Regions from separate parts of the Homo sapiens genome. Here region 2 is linked to region 1. Evidence: fine-mapped expression QTL. A gene starts in region 1. The other region holds a variant in brackets. All regions are shown on one strand. Distances are between the middles of the regions.

Region 1 (10,721 bases):
GCAATGATAAAGATCTATTCTCATAAAGGAGAAACAAATTTAGGTTCCTGATTTTTGGTTCAATTTAATTAAACATTAAAAAACATCTTGAAAATGGTACTGAACTTTTTAAATATCTATCATTTTCCATATTTAGTCTTAATTCAAGGATCTATACACAACACAGTCCCAAAATACCTCTGTTTTCCATGACTGTTCTATCGGGTTAAAATGAACTACCTCTAGTCCTAAATATGCCCCCAGTTGTCTGAACTCACTTTTGTTCACATTATTCCCATGCTTTCTGCCAAGAGTAGCCTCCTGTCCTATCTCTGCTTGTCAAAAGTACAATTCGTCCTTTAATGCTCACCTCTCCATGTTTTAATCGCAGGAGTGATGAGTTGAATGGTAAAGGGGACAGAACAAGAGCCTTAGAGTCAGGGAAACTGGAACCTAAACCCACAATCACAGCATGAGACCTGGGACAGGCTCCAAGTGGCTCCTCATCCCTAAAATGGGATATCCTCATTTTGCATGGCTGTGGTAAAGACGACGTTTAGTCCAAAGTCTGACACACAATAGGTGCTCAATAGTGAGCAGCAGGAGTGGTGATGGTAGTAACAAAATGTACAGTTATAAAGCTTTTCTTGACCTCCTCAACCAGATAAAGTCTGTTCCTTTTCTGAACCCCCTTCTCTATGATTTAGGTAACTACAGTTGTGCCTCACTTGGCAGGGATATGTTCTGAAAAATCCATTGTTAGGCAATTTTGTCATTGTGCAAACATCTTAAGAGTGTACTTACACAAACCTAAATGGTATAGCCTATGTAATATATATATATATATACACACACCTAGGCTATAGAGTATATATACCTAGGCTATAGAGTATATATACCTAGGCTATAGGGTATATATACCTAGGCTATAGAGTATATATACCTAGGCTATAGAGTGTATATACCTAGGCTATAGAGTATATATACCTAGGCTATAGAGTATAGCCTGCCGCTCCTAGGCAACGAACCTGCACAGGATGTTACTGTACTGAATGCTGTAGGCAAGTGCAACATAATGGTAAGTATTTGTGCAACTAAATATAAAGAAGAAAAAAGGTACAATAAAAATATAGTCTTGGCCAGGTGTGGTGGCTCACGCCTGTAATCCCAGCACTTTGGGAGGCTGAGTCGGGCGGATCACGAGGTCAGGAGATTGAGACCATCCTGGCTAACATGATGAAACCCCGTCTCTAGTAAAAAAAATACAAAAAATTGGCCTGGCATGGTGGCGGGTGCCTGTAGTCCCAGCTATGTGGGAGGCTGACGCAGGAGAATGGCCTGAACCCGGGAGGCGGAGCTTGCAGTGAGTGGAGATGCGCCACTGTACTCCAGCCTGGGCAACAGAGCGAGACTCCATCTCAAAAAAAAAATAAATAAATATAGTCCTGGCCGGGCATGGTGGCTCATACCTGTAATCCCATTCACTTTGGGAGGCTGAGGCAGAAGGATCACCTGGGGTCAGGAGTTTGAGACCAGCCAACATGGTGAAACCCCGCCTCTACTAAAAATACAAAAATCAGCCAGGCGTGGTGGCGCACACCTTTAATCGCAGCTACTTGGGAGGCTGAGGTAGGAGGATCCCTTGAACCAGGGAGGCGGAGGCTGCAGTGAGCCGAGATCATATCATTGCACTCCAGCCTGGGCAACAAGAGCAAAACTCCATCTCAAAAAACAAAAAATAAAAATAAATAAATAAATAAAAATATGGTCTTATAATCTTATGGGACCACTGTTATATATGGGGCCTGTCATTGACGAAAATGTCATTTTGTAACTTTCTGCCAACAGGAAATGCTCACTTGATACTATTATACATTCCCCATTCTCTTCTCACCCACTACTTAAAAACATTTTTTTCTCATGTGTTTATGTAATCATTTACCCAATACATATTCATTAAGCAACTCTTCCAGTTAGGGCTCCTTCTAAGGCTGATTTGGTTAATCATGCTGTTCAACTTTTTAAAATGTGTATTATTTTTTTCCGCTTATTCATTGGGTTACTAAGAAGGTTGTGTTAACATTCTTCAAGTATGAGTCTGGGTGTCTTGGCTGACACCTGTAATCCCAGCACTTTGGGAGGCTGAGGCGGGAGGATTGCTTGGGCCTGGGAGGTTGAGGCTGTAGTGAGACAGGGTCTTGCTCTGTCACCCCAGGCTGTAGTGCTGTGGTGTGATCTCGGCTCACTGTAACCTCCACCTCCCGAGTTCATGCGATTCTTGTGCGTCAGCCTCCTGAGTAGCTGGTACTACAGGCTGTGTCACCACACGCAGCTAATTTTTGTATTTTTAGTAGAGACGGGGTTTCACCATGTTGGTCAGGCTGGTCTCAAACTCCTGGCCTCAAGTGATCCGCCTGTCTCAGCTTCCCAAAGTGCTGGGATTATGGGCGTGAGCCACCGCACCCAGCCTGATTGTATATTCTTTTTGCTTCTGCTAATTTATGCCTCATAAAATTTAAAGTTATGTTATTACTTTTGGAGAGATTATGTATTGTTGCTTAATAGATTATTTTATTATTATAAAATATCCCACTTTTCCTCTAGTAAAACTTCTTCCCTTGAAGTCTTTAGTCTGATACTAATACTGGTTGAACATCCCTAATTTGACAATCCAAAATCTGAAATGCTCCAAAATCTAAAACTTTTTGAGCACTTACAAGATGATTAAAGGTTAAGTTCTAAGGAAATGCTCACTAAAGCCATTTCAGATTTGGGACTTTTGGATTAGGGAAGCTCAACCAGTAAGTATAATGCAAATATTCCAAAGTAAAAAAAAAAAAAATCTGAAACACTTCTGGTCCCACTTTGGATAATGAGTACTCAACCTTATAGCCACAATAGTTTTCTGCTTTTAAGTGTTTGGATGATTACTTTTCCTCATCCTTTTAAACTTAAAATAAGTGTGTCTTTACTGTAAGCATGTCTCTTTTAATCTAGCATGCCATTCCATGTATTTAATGGAGTGTTTAGTCCACTTACATTTAACTGATATTTTGTTTACACCTACCTTTCTCTTTATCATCTGAGCTCTGTTCTTTTTCATTAATCAAGTATTTCTACTGTACCACTTTACATTTAGTAGCTACTTTTTAAACAAACTGTGGTAAAAAAAATTAACAAAATTCCCCAACTTACCCATTTTTATGTGTACAGTTCAGTGTTGAGTATATTCACACTGTTATGTAATCCATTGCCTTTTATTATCCTTAAAAACAGCATCTCTCATCTCCAAGCATGTTTTAACATGCTTCCCACCCCATGCTCAGAAACTACCACTGTGCTCTTTTGTACAGATAATTCTTTCTTTTTTTTTTTGAGACAGAGTTTCGCTCTTGTTGCCCAGGCTGGAATGCAATGGTACGGTCTCGGCTCACTGCAACCTCCGCCTCCCGGGTTCAAGAGATCCTCCTGCCTCAGCTCCCACTGCTCCATTCTGCTAGCAGAAGTAAGTACCAGCTCTAAATGTGAAGCGTGCCCTCACACTGGTTTGTGCTGCCAGCTCAGCTAGGTGTCCTGAGAGCACAGCAGTGTTGCAGCCCAACTGAGGAGAATCAAAATTTGTGTTTCTCAACAGGAACATGTGGATCCTGTTTTCTCTGTTTCTAAATAAGTAACTTAAGCCAGTTACTTAACCTCTCTGAACCTTAATTTCTTTACTCATAAAAATGAAAACAGCAACACATGAACATAAACAGGGCTGTTGTAAAATCAAAACAGATAATATACCTAGAAGGCTTTTATTTTTTTGAGACAGAGTCTTGCTCTGTCACCCAGGCTGGAGTGCAGTGGCGCGATCTCGGCTCATTGCAAGCTCCGCCTCCTCAGTTCATGCCATTCTCCTGCCTCAGCCTCCCGAGTAGCTGGGACTACAGGCGCCGGCCACCACGCCCGGCTAATTTTCTGTATTTTTTTTTTTGTAGAGACGGGGTTTCACCGTGTTGGCTAGGATGTTTTTGATCTTCTGACCTCGTGATCCGCCCGCCTCGGCCTCCCAAAGTGTCGGGATTACAGGCGTGAGCCAGCGTGCCCGGCCCCTAGAAGCCTTTTTTTTGTTTTTTTTTTTTTTACTATGAAGCACTATAAAAAACATAAGGTGTTCATTATTGTTTGCCCCATAATTCAAGCTTTCACTGAGGGCAAAGTGACTTTTTTTAACGATACATACAGGCGAATTCACAGCAGTCTAAATCATTGACAAGTATTTGTAAATTACTGCGCTAGGAAGCAAGTTTACACGAAAAATACCTCTACAAGATCCTTTCTTGGCCTCAACTTCAAAAGGGGTTCGCTGAGACGGATGGAACACATTCCACCCTTCCCTTCATAGCTGCATATCCCAGCACACCTAGAAAACAATCACCATAAAAATGTGTTACATTGGCCAAATATGCCCAAGTCCTTACACATTCTTGGGCAGTTCACACTAACTCAGTTGGCAGATGGCTTTCATGAAAGTATACCCCCCTTGGTTAGCAGATACTTGCATTTCACCTAATTAATTAGTTACAACCCCCGCGGGCGCCTCCCGCGATGGCTCCGATCCCCGCCGGGCAAGGAAGGAAAGCAGCGTGCTCTCACCACCCTGCTTGAGAAGGTGGAAGGCTGCAGGCACCTGCTAGAGACGCCAGGACCGTACCTGGTGTACAACGGGGACCTAGTGGAATACGATGCGGACCACATGGCCCAACTGCAGCTCCCCTTGCCCTAGCTAGGCTGCAACAGCTCAAAGGCAATCCTATTCTGCTACTCCCAGTCTCCTTCCGACAAGTTACAGTTCGGTGTTATTAACAAGCAGATATCTCCAGTAGCATATCTCCAAAATCATAACAGACGCCTGTATAAAGGAAATTGGTACTTTAAACACAATTTAATATCATATCTTAATTTGTTTGACAGTAGGTTGTTTTCTATCAACTCAAAAACAAGCATGCTGGGATACAACTGTATCTTAAACTTAACCCTGTTCACGTGCAGGAGTAGATTATTATTTCAAATAGGGATTTCTGAAATTTAGCGTGTAGAAAAAGAATCGTTTTAAAAGCATCACTGAAGATCCCCAATGCAACACACGAGCTAACTAAAGTGGGTTTCCTAACGGGAATAGAGGAGGAGAACACACATCCTTTGGCAGTTACTCTGCGTCCTCAGCACTTTCTTAGGTGCAGATTTGGTTGCTTCTCCCTTCTGGGTCCTACAGCACTATCATAAGGCAAATCAGGAACTTGTTATTTTCAAGTGAAGTGAGATTCAAATAAAAATCTCTTTTTTGTTACGGCCCTGAGTCCAACCGTGGCGGTGTGGTCTACACAGCTTTCTTATTGTTCGAGTGGGAGAAAAGGTAAGGAAGACAGAAACACGCCGAGGCAGGAATTGCCAGGTCCAAAACCAGACTCCCCTCATTTAACGCCCCCTGGGACCGTCGGACTAGAGAAAGGAGAGAAAACCAGGGCCGGGGGCTGCAGGAAAGCTGCCAGTCCCGCCTCTTTCCCCAGCGGGGCTCGGAACTCACAGGGTCATTCGCACGCTCCACTTCACCTCGACGGCCTCCAGCTGGCCCCAGAAGAATTGGTCGTTAAACTGAACAAACAGTGCCTGCAAGTCCGGTGTGGGGTCCACCAACTCCCACGACGCGTCCACTAGCGACAGGGACTCCTGGGCATGATCGCGCTCCGCCTCCTGCAAGTTCCACTCCTCCTGAAGCCGCAGTGCCAACATCAAGTCATCATCCATCGTTGCCAGGATCACAGGCGGGGTCCGCCGGCGTCAGGCTGGCTCCCCAGTTACGCCGCGACCCCAAGCCGCCTAGCCGAGGACCAGGACTAGCTCCTAGGAGATGCCGGCTCTCGAGACGGCCCGTCAATCCCGCGAGAGTTCGCGGAAACGCGCTTGAGAACGAGAACGGAGCTTACCCCAAACGCCGAAGCCAAGATTCTAGGGCTTTAAAAAAAGCAGTCAGCATGACACCTCCTAGTGGGCGCAGAACCTGGGCTCACAGGGCTCGGGCCCTACGAAGCTTTCAGGAAGCTAGTTTCAGCCTTTACTCTTTGCCGGTTATTTCAAACCTCAACGTCACGCTCGGTTCATGCGCAGTACCGAAATTTCTCTCGGCCTCTCCCTCCCCTCACTTCCGCAATAGCTCATCTTGCGCATGCGCTTTAACCGATGGCATTGCTGCGCAGGCGCAATGTCTGCGCTCGGCCCACTTGCGCAGGCGCAGTGTCTGACGCTCAGACCCGGCGCAGGCGTACTCGTCTCGTTCCCATTCCTGCTTCCTCAGCCCAGGAGCTCGGTTGGCCTTGGGTGGGTCTAGACAGCCGCGGCGGCTGCGGCGCCGATAGTGACAGTGAGTGCGTGAGACCCGGAGAGAAATGGCGATGGCGATGTCGGACAGTGGGGCGAGCCGCCTGCGTCGGCAGCTGGAGTCAGGGGGTTTTGAGGCGCGGCTGTACGTGAAGCAGCTCTCGCAGCAGTCGGATGGGGACCGGGACCTCCAGGAGCACCGGCAGCGCATCCAGGCGCTGGCGGAGGAGACGGCGCAGAACCTGAAGCGCAACGTCTACCAGAACTACCGGCAGTTCATAGAGACGGCCCGCGAGATCTCCTACCTGGAGAGCGAGATGTACCAGCTCAGCCATTTGCTGACCGAGCAGAAAAGCAGCCTGGAGAGCATCCCGCTTACGTTGCTGCCTGCCGCTGCTGCCGCCGGAGCCGCCGCCGCCTCTGGAGGGGAGGAGGGAGTCGGTGGGGCGGGGGGCCGAGACCACCTCCGAGGCCAGGCCGGCTTTTTCTCCACCCCCGGGGGTGCCTCCCGCGACGGCTCCGGTCCAGGCGAGGAAGGAAAGCAGCGCACTCTCACCACCCTGCTTGAGAAGGTGGAAGGCTGCAGGCATCTGCTGGAGACGCCGGGACAGTACTTGGTGTACAATGGGGACCTAGTGGAATACGATGCGGACCACATGGCCCAACTGCAGCGGGTGCACGGCTTTCTCATGAACGATTGCTTGTTGGTGGCTACCTGGCTGCCTCAGCGGCGTGGGATGTATCGCTACAACGCTCTCTATTCCCTAGATGGTTTGGCCGTAGTCAATGTCAAGGACAACCCGCCCATGAAGGACATGTTCAAGCTGCTTATGTTCCCCGAGAGCCGTATTTTCCAGGCCGAAAATGCTAAAATCAAACGAGAGTGGCTGGAAGTGCTGGAGGACACCAAGAGGGCCCTCAGTGAGAAAAGGCGAAGGGAGCAGGAGGAGGCAGCGGCCCCTCGAGGGCCACCCCAAGTGACTTCCAAGGCCACTAACCCATTTGAGGATGACGAAGAAGAAGAACCAGCTGTTCCTGAGGTAGAGGAAGAGAAGGTGGACCTCTCCATGGAATGGATCCAGGAGTTACCTGAAGACCTGGATGTCTGCATTGCGCAGAGAGACTTTGAAGGGGCGGTTGACCTGCTGGATAAATTGAACCATTACCTGGAAGATAAACCTAGCCCACCTCCTGTAAAAGAACTAAGGGCCAAAGTGGAGGAGCGAGTTCGACAGCTCACTGAGGTGCTAGTTTTCGAACTCTCCCCAGATCGTTCCCTGAGAGGTGGTCCGAAGGCTACTCGCAGAGCAGTTTCGCAACTGATCCGGCTGGGCCAGTGCACGAAGGCCTGTGAGCTATTTTTGAGAAACAGGGCAGCCGCTGTTCATACTGCAATTCGTCAGCTTCGCATCGAAGGTGCCACTTTACTCTATATTCATAAGCTGTGCCATGTCTTCTTTACCAGCCTTCTCGAGACTGCAAGAGAATTTGAGATCGATTTTGCAGGCACTGACAGCGGCTGCTACTCTGCCTTTGTGGTCTGGGCAAGATCAGCCATGGGCATGTTCGTGGATGCTTTTAGCAAGCAGGTGTTTGATAGTAAGGAGAGCCTCTCTACAGCAGCTGAGTGTGTAAAAGTGGCTAAGGAGCATTGCCAGCAACTGGGTGATATCGGACTGGATCTCACCTTCATCATCCATGCCCTTCTGGTGAAAGACATCCAAGGGGCCTTGCACAGTTACAAAGAAATCATCATTGAAGCCACTAAACATCGCAACTCTGAAGAGATGTGGAGGAGGATGAACTTGATGACGCCAGAAGCCCTGGGTAAGCTCAAAGAAGAGATGAAAAGTTGTGGGGTAAGTAACTTTGAGCAGTACACAGGGGATGACTGCTGGGTGAACCTAAGTTACACAGTGGTTGCTTTCACCAAACAGACCATGGGCTTCTTGGAAGAGGCCCTGAAGCTGTATTTCCCAGAGCTGCACATGGTACTTTTGGAGAGCCTGGTGGAAATCATTTTGGTTGCTGTTCAGCATGTGGATTATAGTCTTCGATGTGAGCAGGATCCAGAGAAGAAAGCTTTTATCAGACAGAATGCATCCTTTTTATATGAAACAGTCCTCCCTGTGGTGGAGAAAAGGTTTGAAGAAGGTGTGGGGAAACCTGCCAAGCAACTCCAAGATCTGAGGAATGCATCTAGACTTATTCGTGTGAATCCTGAAAGTACAACATCAGTGGTCTAATGCTTGGGTCTGTTTATATGTGTATATATGCAGAGAGAGAGCTTATATATTATTTATATTTATATTAAGTTGTATTAGCATACTCTATAGTTTCAAACACAACTTGAAAATTAAAAGTGCCCTCTTAAAAATACAAAAATCAAAAAGAGGAAAATAAGTTAAATTAAGCCCAAGTAACAAAAATACTGGAATTATTAAAACGTATAGTATGCTAGCTATCCTTTTAAATTATGCTAATTCTCTTCTTCTGAAATTATGGTCACACTATATACTATAGCATTTCGGTTTTATCCTTTGATAAAACTTTTCTTTTTTCTTTTTTTTTTTTGAGACAGGGTCTCACCCCGTCGCACAGGCTGGAGTGCAGTGGCAAAGTCTCGACTCACTGCAGCCTTGACCTCCCGGGCCCAGGTAGTCCTCCCACCTCAGCCTCCCATGTAGCAGGAACCACAGGCAGGCACCACCATACCCAGCTAATTTTTGTATTTTTTGTAGAGATGGGGTTTCGCCATGTTGCCCAGGCTAGTCTTTTCTTTCTTCTTTTTTTTTTTCCCCACAGTATATATTATACAGCAGTCATAATATCTATAAATACATAGAGTTTATGTTGTGAAGTTTCCCAGTTCACTGAAATGTTAGGTTTCCTAAAGGGTACAGTGCCGTATAAAACAACCTGCCTCATATATTTCTCCTCAAAACGTTGGACTATTTGGGAAAAGGAAAAGAGTTGGGAAAATTGGTTTTAAGGTAAGTTTTAGTCAAAAGAATTCTTTCTTGAAACTAGCTGGTTTGTGGATTCAGATACTCTGATCCTTACAGAATCCAAGAGGAAGCTTTCATAAAAACAATTCAGCAAATATTTCCAATATAATTTGAATGGCTAATTTTCAGTTGCTAATTAATTAGCAGCTTTGTAATACTTGATTTGGGAGCATTTACTTGGAAATCCTAAGGACTATAATAAAAGTTTTCAACATATTTCTAAATTGTGTGAGTTTCCAGCTGTAGCTTTTGTCTTTGTCACATTTTAAAAAATAATAAGCAAGACACATTGGGGACACTGGCAGCAGTTGCCAGGTTTTAGCTGCCACCGCTTCAGTATGAGATATAGCTGTCCCATCTTCCCCCATTCAGGGTAGGAGATATAGTGACCCAGACTTCATGCAAATGGAAAAAAAGTTTTAACTGAAATATTTATTTAGATTTCAGGGTCTAGATGGATGGGAAAGTAGAAAAACATATGCAAATCTCAGTGTTCTCACTATGACCACTCTGAGCAGAGATTTGGTTTTGTTTCCTTTTGTAACAAAGTGAAAACAGGTGAGACAATGTGCCCAAAACAAAGGGAAGAAGAGAACCTTCTGTGACTCCTAAAATGTTCCATGCTGCATTTTTGTTTCATTTTTTATTTTTCCTTGCTTTGTTTTTAAACATGAATATAATGCTTACTTCAAATTGTTTAGTAAAACAAAATAACTAAAGAAATGTGAGCTTCCCAAGGTTTCTAAACTATCGCTGTTGTATATTCTATAGCGTTCCTTATTCTTTGAGGGAAACTGTGCTTGCTGTGATCCATTTTGTCTCTAGCTTCTAGTTGTGATTCTTGTCCATAAGCACCAAATTTGATGCCCATGATTTCAAAAGGTCATTTCTTTTATCTGAATGAAAATGGTGGTACTAAGACTGTGAAAATTATGTGAAACCTAAAGTAGTTGCCAAAGTGGCTCAGGGTTGTAAAATTCATTGACTTAATTATTCATGTGCCAGATCAACCCCTTTATTTTCTCTTTAGCTGTGCATATTTAAAATATTGGAAAGTATCAGATTTACAGATTTTCTTTGACTAATTTTTTTCACATAACTTTAGGATTTTCGAAAGTTGTAACCATAACTGGATATCTTAGCTGAGCAAAGGCGGTTATAATTTGTCTTTTTAAGATCACTGGAAATTGATAAAATTTTGTGATAATTATGATTATTCTGTGCCATTTACAGTTTCTAATACTATACTGTATGAAATATGTATAAATATATGATGCTGAGTCTGTGGAATGATACTTCTGAAATCAAAATTCCTCATAAGGCATGAAGTTGTAAAAACTTGAATGTGTATAGTTAGATATTTAAATGGTTGCT
Region 2 (11,083 bases), 66 kb after region 1:
CTGCCTAAGCTGTGTTTAAGCTGTTGTGTTATGGCACCCTGAAACTGACTAATGCGCCTGCCTCTGTCTTCAATTTCACTATCTGTGACTCTTGTTCCAGCCATGTTGATCTTTTGGGAGCTCTGGAACCTGCCCCAGGACGTCCTGATCACTATTTTCTCCTGGCACACTGCACTCCACTGTCCCTTCCTCCGTCACTCCAACCCTGCCACTCTAGGGGCTGGCTCCTGCTCAATCCAGTTCTCAGCTTACATGTCACTTCCAGAGGTGGCTACTTGCCAAGGTTTCTGGTGTTACCTACTTACTCTAAATTTCTCTTCTCTTGAATTCTTACACATATTTATGGTGCATCACACAGCATCTTTTTGTTGCACATACTTGACTAATTCATTTTTGTTAATTAAGGCCCTAGGGTGGCCAACATTTAAAGTAAGCTAGCTAATTTATTAAATATCTCTTTCAAATTTGTACTTGTTTGAGGCAACTTTAATTAAAGCAAGCTACAAGTAACGTAGATATGCCCTTTTCATTTTCTTTTAATATCCAGAGCTTTCAGTGTTGTCATACTTTAATTCAAAAGTCAACATAAAAGTTTAATACATATAGTAAGCTGAAAAGTGTTAGTGAAATGAGCTGAGCTTTGCTTTTCCAAACATGTTTCCAAAAGTTTATTTTAAAACACACACATAGTGTCAGATACAAACGCCTTTTAACCACTGTGGTGGGGAAGAGTAAACTGATTGCTTCCAATGATCATCTCTTCCCTCTGCGTCCACTGTTCTCAGAGTCTCAGGGAGTATGAGAGGATGTGTCTCTTCCTTTACTTCCCTGTTTGTTGTAATGAGTCCTTCGATGAGAGTAATTACGTGACCGAATTTTCCATAACTATTTGTTGATTATTAAAGTTTTGCAGTGGCTGGTTTTCCTATTGGTGTCTTACAACCTAAGATGAAAAAAGAGAAGCAGCTCATGAAATGATGCTGATTTTGCCCTTCCTCATACAGCTGTTCCTTGGGCGACTGTCCAGGGGAGAAGCTGGAGACTTGTGCAGAGCTTCACAGGCTGGCCAGTACCCATGGGGACGCCAGCCCCCTCCACAAGGGAAGCGGTAGATGCTCCAAGAGGTGACAGCATGGCCAGAGCCACAGGGCCAGGGCCAGGAGTTGAACCCCGTCATGTTTTCTGAACTCCAGTCCAGTATGTTCACGCTCACATCACATCTGCTTTCCGTGATTAAGTAATTGATTCCGTCACCCTCACAGGGCGAGGTGTTTGTGGTTGTTTTAGGTATATGCACCTCTTCAGACACGATATAAATAGAAGACTGGGATTTCGACCTACATATTTTTTTCTACAAGGTCTAGTACTTCCGCCTTCCCGATATGCAACAACTACCCCACTGCCCTTCTACCCTTTTCTTCATCCATTCTCCTTTTCCGTATGCCCCATTCTGGTCTTCCGCAAATCCCAACAGACATTTATCTAAAGCTCTTCCATGCAGGTTTGACGAGGTACTGAATTAAGATTAGGTACAAAAACAGTACTTGGAAGACGATCCACTCAAGGACATCACGCCATTCAATATAATCAGCAGATTATTTTTTCCAAATGTTAACACCCTCCTTTCTAAAATGGCCGCATCATTGCTAGGAAAAGTGTTCTTGACCCCCTCTGATTGTACCTCTGTTTATGTCAACACTCAAGGACTCTTATGTCAAGGAAGACAACACTCAAGGACTCTTTTTGGACTAGACTATTTCTTCATAGCTGATAGGCTCTAGAGAAGAGTAAGGGTTGGATTATTCTCCCAAGGATGTGCTATCAGCCCTAATTCTGAGTTCAGAAAGTCTACATGATAGAGACACTGACACTAATCTCTCACTTGGGAAAGAAGCAATGCAAGACAGACAGTGAGAGCATCAAACAAAGAGTGGAGATGAGGTACTCTCTCTGAGGCAAGGATGTGAAGGGTCTGGGCCTCTGGCTGAGACCAGTCATGTTAGGGACTGACTCTTTCTACTGTGTAAGACTGCTTCTTTTATGCCTGCTGTGTTTTGTTAATTTTCTTTGTGCTTTCTCGTTAGCTTCCTTGAGAAAATTCCAGACTGCATAAGTAATTCCCTTTTATGTTAGAACTCTACTACTTACTGATCATTTTGATAAAGTATTTGGTGCCACAGTATACTTTCTTATTTTAATTCATCAACAAAATGTGAAAACTTGTATTTTATTAAACTGCACTTACCAAGCATTTCTTCTAATTTGGTTGTGGCAGGTTCATTCACATTAAATATACAGTTATTATTTCTAGGAGAAAATAATAAGCTTTATTATTACATAAACTCTGGGGAAAAGACAACTTTTATATTTTGTTCCTGACGTAGCTATTGTAAGACTACTTTTCAATTGCCTTCCTCAAGGCTGGGCCTAAGTAGTCGAAAGGCCTCAGGCTCCTGTCCCACCTCCTGGCTTCTTGCTTCATTCTTCTGACCACATAAGAGACATGACTGCCAGAGTTTACTATTAAGCTTTATCACTGTTAAATTCAACCACTTAGAAGAACATACATCTATATGTTTATATATACATATACAGGTATGTATCTATATATGTATTATGTGTGTATTTATGTGTGTCTACACTCATATGCCCACTACACTCCCGAAAATCTTTCTTGTAATTATAAATTTCAACATTAAGTCAAAGCAAAAATATTGGCCTAAAGTTATTTCTTCCTTTCTTTGCTTCAGTTGCATTTCTATTCATAACCACATACAATTTTCAGGATAACTCACACTGACTTAACTAATTAGAGGATGGATAAGGAAAGTAGAATATAGCATTTCCTAGATCATCCATTTCTATGTCTCTCTGGATTTTGAGCTCAAATGTCATTCATTTCCTTGTTCCTTGAGCACTCATGGGATCTTGTACAGTACTTACATCTTCTTCTTCTCCACTACTCCGAGCCTCACACAGGCTGCTAAGGCGTTTTTCTGCACATCAGAAGATAATACATCATAACATTGAGAGGTACCTAAAATTGGGGGTGAGGAAGAGTTAGTTGACCAGTTTCTATTCTCAACTAAAAGAAATCAGCACCCACAGAGCAGTGACTGACCTTGATCGAGAAGCTGACTTGTGAATTTTCTGACTGCAGCCAAGTACTGTTCCTCACTGAAGTGGTCCTCTTCTTCACTCAAAAGGTACTTGCAAATTATCTGATTTTAAGAGGAAGGATGAGGGGAACAGAAAGAGAAAAAGGATAGCCAAGTTCAACAGAATAGTAAATAACTTTACATTGCCCCTCTTAAGAGAAGGATATATCACAAGAGAGCAGCATAAAGACCCTCCAAGGAATGAGCCCAGAAAAACCAAAGAATTTTTAGGGCATCTCCTTTGAGTTTACATTTTACAATTAGAAAAAGATTTAAAATAATAATGACATTTATTAAAGTATAATTTCTCACTTCAAGGGGTACAAGTTAATTACCATCAGCTTCGTATCTCTTATGCTACTTGGGAAGAGAGGGGTCAGATTTTAATAACTTTGCTTTTTTTCTCTAAATACACCTAAGAAAGTACCATGCCCTAAAATACTTGATGATTTCTACTGTAGAACAGTGATTAAGGGTAGAACTAGCATTTATCAAATGCTCAGTAAGTGCTAGACTTTGTGCAAGGAGGCTGAATGAGTTATTTCACGGACCACAAGCACCAGGAAGTGGGTCCAGGTGCCCAGAGCCAGTGCATGTATTATATGAACAGAGCCGAGTCACAGCATCCTCTTCTCTCAAGCATGTGGAAGTCCTTCCTACAGTTTATGTTTCAGACTCTTTCTCTCCCGTTGAGTCCTGCCACAATTCCTGCTGGGCAACATACCATCCCATCTCTCTAACTACTCCCAAGAGCTCTGACAAACGCTTTCAGAACTTGCACTTGAACTTTTTCTTTCCAACATAAACATCTGGTAATCTGTAACTGACTTTATGTATCACTCAAGTCTTGCCTTTACTGAGTGCCTGATATATATCAAACCTCGAGGTTACATATTGACTGACATGAAGGCCTCATTAAGACATGAGACACAGTATGACAGATGATGCGTGGGTGTAACTGTGGTCCTGTGAATACTGTGACCATGGCATCACTAAGCTGTTGTCCTCTTGGGTCTGTAATGAACCAAGCTTCCTCCTGAATGCGGGGAGCAAGGTCTCACTGGTGAGGTGAAATCACTGATCGTATTAGTCACTCTCTCTCCTTCTTCCATTTGCCTGGGGAAGATACCTGCCCTTCAGACTGGAAATAAGCACAGGGTGAGAATGTCTTATTATATTTGATATGGGGGGCATGAAGGAGAACTTGCCAAATTTACATACCTGATAGCTTTCCACAAAAGGTTTAAAGAGTCCTACTAAAAATTCTAACACAGTATTTCCTTTCTCTGTAACTAGGATGTCTTTCGTAGTCACTTGTATGGCTTCACTTTTACAAAGCAGGTAACAGCCTTCTTCAAAGTCCTAGAAGGGAAGAGGAAGCCATAATGTTCATCTAGGTTAATGGGTATAGTGCCCATCTGAATACATGTACCCCCTCATCTAGGTTAATGGATACACTGCCTATCTGAATATATGCAGCCACATGCCCTCAGACAACAGAATACCAGCTATTTCCCCAACCTCCAGAACAATTCTGGTTGTGAGATAGTAGCCAGAGAAGCATCTGCTCTACATTCAAAATGTTTTCAAACACAACATTTCTGAGCCTTACAAATCACAACCTGGGTGATGGATTTTCTTTTACTTTGCAGAACCACTCCTTAATTTAAATAGGAAATACATACAGCAAGTCCTAAAAATACTTAGAATTATGCTATGGTTAAAAAATTTCTGGCTGGGCGCGGTGGCTCACGCCTGTAATCCCAGCACTTTGAGAGGCTGAGGCGGGCGGATCATGAAGTCAGGAGATCGAGACCATCCTGGCTAACACAGTGAAACCCCGTCTCTACTAAAAATATAAAAAATTAGCCGGGCGTAGTGGTGGGCGCCTGTAGTCCCTGCTACTTGGGAGGCTGAGGCAGGAGAATGGAGTGAACCCGGGAGGCAGAGCTTGCAGTGAGCTGAGATTGCGCCACTGCACTCTAGCCTGAGCGACAGAGCCAGACTCCACCTCAAAAAAAAAAAAAAAAAAAAAGTTTCCAACACTCCTGTTCCACTCCCTACAGAATCAAACCTCTTATCCTTAAAGCACACAAACACCTAACATGCCTCTCATCTACTGTCACTTCCCACTTCAACCCAGCAGCAGTCCAGCTCTGCGAGCCTGATGACCCCTCAGCTGTCTAGACCAGGCAGGACCAGCACTCACTACTCTCAAAGTAAAAGGCACTTGCCTGGGTGACTCATTCTAACAACTTGCTAACAGGAAAATGTGTGCTGATTTTGTTGTGTTTGGTTTCTTTTTTTTTGAGATGGAGTCTTCCTCTTGTCACCAGGCTGGAGTGCAGTGGCACAATCTTGGCTCACAGCAACCTCCACCTCCCGGGTTCAAGTGATTCTCCTGCCTCAGCCTCAGCCTCCTGAGTAGCTGGGACTACAGGCATGCGCCACCACGCCCAGCTAATTTTTGTATTTTTAGTACAGACGGGGTTTCACCATGTTGGCCAGGATGGTCTCGATCTCTTGACCTCGTGATCCGCCTGCCTCGGCCTCCCAAAGTGCTGGGATTACAGGCATGAGCCACTGCGCCCGGCTGTGTGCTGATTTTTAAACGTTTACTAAAATAAAGTTAGTTTAGTTGTAATGGCCACACTGATAGTTCAAAGAATGACTCTCCTCTCACCATATAATCCCTAAGTTATTAATTAAACTTGATCAAGAATCAAACTAGAGTCTGCTGAACTGTGAGCGCCCCAGTTTCTCTTGAAGTCTGCCCCACTTTGCCTTGAAGAAAGGGATGGCACACTGCCTGAGACACATCTGTGAATTCACCCCTAACATTTCTAGAACTCACACTGCAAACATACTTGCTCTTTGTTGTAAGCACTTTACCTTTAGTGTGTTTCCTGGAAGGAAGATGAACTCATCTGCAAAAACA[T/C]CACGTAGGAAGCGAAAGCAACTGTAGACATCCTCTGGAAATAAATGCATCATGTAAAATTACAACATTGCCCTTTAAACTTTAAGGGAGTACCAGGAAGTCCTTACTATCACAAAATGTATTTCAAAGGCATATTTTATTCATGTAACAGGGACAAGAATTAAGTCCCCTGAGGGAAGCTAAATTAAACCCAAATCTTACCCACAGAGCAAACTACGGTCTAGCATAGTTTGTTTTTTGTTTTTTGAGATGGAGTCTCGCTCTGTCACCCAGGCTGGAGTGCAATGGTGCAATCTTGGCTCACTGCAACCTCCGCCTCCTGGGGTCAAGCGATTCTCCAGCCTCAGCCTCCCAAGTAGCTGGGATTACAGGCACTCGCCGCCATGCCCAGCTAATTTTTGTATTTTAATAGAGACAGGGTTTCACCATGTTGGTCAGGCTGGACTCGAACTCCTGACATCGTGATCCTCCTACCACGGCCTACCAAAGTGCTGGGATTACAGGCGTGAGCCACTGCGCCCGGCCCTAGCATAGTTTTTAAATGATTGACTCTAACCTACAACCAGGCTTCTACTCAGCGAGACATCACAGTCCTTAGAGGCCAGGACGCTTCATTTTTCCCTACCCCATGGCTCCCTAGTAGGGAAGGAAAGGTACTGATTTCTTAATTTCCCTCTATATTCATATTTCCTGGTATCTTTATTATATCTGTAGCACTTTTCCTTAGAATCACTGTGGAGCTTTGAAAAGCCAAAACCAAAACCAAAACCAAACACCAATGGCTGGCCCATACCCCAGGTCAACTGAAGAAACTTTGGGGTGGGGCTCACTCCCCTAGTAATTCTAACATAGGGCCTTGACAGAACCCCCTGGCCTTGACTACAGGCTCCTGTGAACATGACGTGTACTGTACTCATTTTTATACTCCTGATACAATTAGAACAAGACCATGCATCTCGGGAGTACTCATCGACTGCTGACTGCTCATCTGCCCACCTGCCTTTGCTGGATCAGGGAGCTGGCACAGCCAAAACAGTGCCGCAGACCAGGAAGTGGAGAACTGTACTCAAATGCCAGATCCTTCTCTCAGTAATTATGCAACTTTCTAGGCCTCATTTTCCATATTTATAGAAGGAAAGGTTTAGATTATTTCCAGGTCCTCCCAATTCCAAAATTCGAAGCAGATGAACAAGTATTTGGGGAACAAAGCTAACTTTTTCTCAGTGATAGGCCTGCTCTTCACCGGCGTGAGGCTGAACATTACAAGGCTTCAAATGTGGCTCCCTAAATGGAATGGAATGGCCAGACCTCTTCTAAAAGTCAAGATTGCATTCCTGAAAATTACCTTTCCTGAACCCTGGTGTCATCTGCAATGCTACTGCTACTAAGGATGGGCGCACAAAAATGTTGAGCAGCTGGTTCCTATAAGCTGAGCACATGAGGAGAGTGATGTGCTGGAGCATAAGCCCATCGACCACTTCCGAGTCTCCGGAGTCCACTTTCAGAATCACCTGGTCTTTGACAAGGCTGGCAATGTTGGAATGCAGAAGAATGCTGGCCGGGACAACTTCTTCAGCAGGTTTATTATCTACACACAAAGACAATTCATTCAAACAAGATGGGTCACTGCAGGGAGTCTTAGGCCTAGCGTACGTTAACGTTATTAATGGTAACGTGACAGATGCTCATTTTCAAGTGACAGGTTTTACTGTCTACCAATTACGGTAATGATACCAAATCTGAAGAAAAATTTAAAAGTACTATTTCATAAATCAATTCTTTCTCTCTCTCTAAGGACATGTAACATACTTTCTTACCCCCAAAATTTGTCAGCCATTCTGAAAGGCACATCAGTTTCTACTCTGAAAATGAACACCACTTCTGTGTACTTCAGGAACCAAGGGAATCTAAAGTTTTCTAACAGCAAGTTACATAACTGGAAAGTCACATGCACGGGAATGTAAGAATACTAAGAAAAAGGCCCATGATTAGTGTATGAATACATTAAAACATACAACACACACACACATGCACACACACCCCTTGCTTAGACCCATACTAAAATGGTAAAAATATCACTTTGCAGTTTTCCCCAAATCAAAGATAACTAAAGGGGCAGCTCCATGGCAGTTGGTAGCTTATCACCTGACATATTGGCCTGCAGACAGCTGCCAGGCAGGTAGAATTACAGAAGCATAATGAAGAGATGGTGATATTTAACAAATATTCTCAGCACGGAAAATTATTCTGCAGTTAACCTGAGCCAAAGAGCTGGCTGGCAGTGGCACACTGCTCAAGTTGGGTGGCAAGTTCTGCTACTGCTTCAAGGCAGGGACAAGTGAGAGGTATGGCTTCCTCCTGGACTTGATCACATTCATTCTTGAACAACTTGCCTTGTCTCAGCTTGCTCAATTGAATAATATTTTATGTGAAATGATCATAAAAAGCTTGAGATATGAACATGCTTAGGAATGTGGGGTAATCTGCATAAAAAAAGAAAAAAGGAACAGAACTGTAGTGACACTGAACAGATACTCTTAGTTATGGATTAGTTATGGCATTTATCCCATCCTGAAAAAGCAAAACACTTTAGAAAAACAAGTACCTATGTTTTCATATGTTCCTGGGCCAAACAATGATGGGTTTGAGCCCTTTTAGCTATTTCTCATGACATCCAACACTTGCTACTTGTATCATAATTAACACATCCTTTGCCTCCTACCAGACCCAGCCCATCACAGCACTGAGAACAGGTGTCTGATTTGTCTCTCTCTTGGTGACTGGCATTTTTGTCAGTAAATCCTCCTCATCTCTTGGCTGTGCCCTGAGTGCCTCCACTGCTGCGGCTCAGGCATCTCAGGCATCCTGCATTTCTCATTGGGACAGAGCAGCCTCCTAACTTGTTTCTATACCTCCAGTCTTCTGATGGTGGATGGTGGGGAGGAGGCGGGGAGGTCCATCTTTATTTTCCATCTACCCACCACCCCATCTGGGCCAACACTTTAATATCACTGATGAATCTCTGGGGCCCAAGCCTCCCATCTTGCATTCCTCATCCCTGCCTTGGCGAGGATCCTCTCCTGGTCTTCCTGAAGGGTTCAAAAGTCGCTTCTGTGAAGTCTTCCTGAGTATGGTCCCTTTCCTCTGCAGCACTCTCAGGAACCCTCTGCAGCATGCATGTTGCTCCTTGTCTCTGTTCACTGAACCCTCACAACTTGTTTACACATTACCCACCCACCCTGCCCTCTGCAACCCAGGGGAACGTCCAGGATGGGGATGGCATCTTGTTCATCTTCATATCCCTGGTAGTACCCAGCACAGAGGAGGTATTCAGTATTGGGTTGATCAAAGAACAGTAGGTACTTGACTTCAAATAATTATCTGGTCTTTAAAAAAAAACGCATTTCCAACTGTAGCCTGTACAATTTTTTTTTTTTTTTGAGACGGAATCTCGCTCTATCACCCAGGCTGGAGTGCAGTGGCGCAATCTTGGCTCACTGCAATCTCTGCCTCCCAGGTTCAAGCAATTTTCCTGCCTCAGCCTCCCGAGTAGCTGGGATTACAGGTGCACGCCACCATGCCCGGCTAATTTTTGTGTTTTTAGTAGAGACGGAGTTTCACCATGTTGGTCAGGCTGGTCTGGAACTGCTGACCTCGTGATCCGCCCGCCTCAGCCTCCCAAAGTGCTGGGATTACAGGTGTGAGCCACCACGCCCGGCCTTTTTTTTTTTTTTTTGGAGATGGGGTCTCACTATGTTACTGAGGCTGGTCTCGAACTCCTGGGCTCAAGTGATCCTCCCACCTCAGCCTCCCAAGTAGCTGGGATTATAGGTGTGTACCACCATGCCTGGCTAGGATTCATGACTTTATTTTCCACCGTACTAGGTGCCAAGGAAATGGTATTCTAGTCCTCAAGATATTCAGAGTCTCGTAGTGGGAAATGACATGTAAACAATTATTCTCAAATAATCAACGTGCTGTGTTCACTGTGTCCTATAGTGATAAAAACAGATTTGGTGTCCTTTCTCTTTTTCTTTCTTTTTTGAGACAGAGTCTCGCTCTGTTGCCTAGCTGGAGTGCAGTGGCACAATCTCGGCTCACTGCAAGCTCCGCCTCCTGGGTTCATGCCATTCTCCTGCCTCAGCCTCCCGAGTAGCTGGGACTACAGGCGCCTACCACCACGCCTGGTTAATTTTTTCTATTTTTTAGTAGAGACGGGGTTTCACCGCGTTAGCCAGGATGGTCTCAATCTCCTGACCTCGTGATCCACCTGCCTTGGCCTCCCAAAGTGCTGGGATTACAGGTGTGAACCACCGCGCCCGGCCTGTCCTTTCTCTTTCTGAGCAATCCTTTGCTCAAGTCCTCTATAGATTTTTCAGGTCCAGGTTTTAACTCTTCCAAATTAAGCAAGCATTCTCAACACATATGTCCTACCTACATACCAGGCCAAATGAGAAACCCTCCAAATGCCTGGGTTAAGCCTTTTAGCCATAAAGTCTTTTCCACCAGAGCATCAAAGTCCATGGATGGCCGGTTCTGAAGCAGAACAGCAACTATTAGGGTCCAGGGGCTCAAAACCATGTTTTCAATTTGCAGAAGCTCCATTTTGTAGGCAACTTCAGTGACAAAGGCATGCATGTCCTCAGACTGTTTCTGAGGAATGTATCTAAAAGGAAGAGCACAGAGCAACAAATTACAGTTCTGTTACTTAGACAAATGGGGATGGAAAAAGACTCTAGACGTTTTAGAAGGCTTCTCATACTTTGTGCCAACTGAATTCTCTCAGGTCAGGTGCAAACAGTATTCCTTTGCTTTACTATAGTGTAATCTGACCATACATTTCTGGAATATCCTCTTGAGAGATGGTAAAAATACTGAAGGGGTCCAGGGTCCTATTATTCCTGGTTCCAGGCAAAAAACTTTTGTTGCTTCCTAAATAGGATACATCGTTTCTCTGAGAATGGATGCCTGCCCCAGTAGACTAAAT

Which allele goes with the higher level. Alleles are on the strand shown, and positions count from the first base shown. SD is a standard deviation of normalised expression in the study named.
As copies of T replace C in region 2, the expression in activated naive CD4 T cells of the gene that starts at base 5,860 in region 1 goes down (large effect, 0.84 SD a copy in Schmiedel 2018).

Evidence for each region.
Region 2: its variant is fine-mapped to the expression of SPRTN in activated naive CD4 T cells (Schmiedel 2018, PIP 0.95).

What each region holds. Positions count from the first base shown.
Region 1 is chr1:231,333,432-231,344,152 of GRCh38, reverse strand. SPRTN (SprT-like N-terminal domain) reads right to left here and starts at 5,860. Exons shown (of 5, transcript NM_032018.7): 1 at 5,549-5,860; 2 at 4,285-4,384. The coding sequence starts at 5,769. It overlaps EXOC8 (exocyst complex component 8), which reads left to right and starts at 6,301. Exons shown (of 1, transcript NM_175876.5): 1 at 6,301-10,721. The coding sequence starts at 6,408. The coding sequence ends at 8,585. RefSeq lists silencers at 4,576-4,625, 6,697-6,866 and enhancers at 4,374-5,248, 5,647-5,846, 5,249-6,123, 6,427-6,486, 6,527-6,576 and 1 more.
Region 2 is chr1:231,267,359-231,278,441 of GRCh38, reverse strand. It overlaps GNPAT (glyceronephosphate O-acyltransferase), which reads right to left. Exons shown (of 16, transcript NM_014236.4): 9 at 10,539-10,762; 10 at 7,442-7,684; 11 at 6,051-6,130; 12 at 4,380-4,520; 13 at 3,122-3,221; 14 at 2,944-3,037; 15 at 2,246-2,307; 16 at 469-943. The coding sequence ends at 900. Among named protein-coding and RNA genes, the nearest start is that of GNPAT, 32 kb to the right of the region's middle. The variant T/C (reference allele first, on the strand shown) is at 6,097.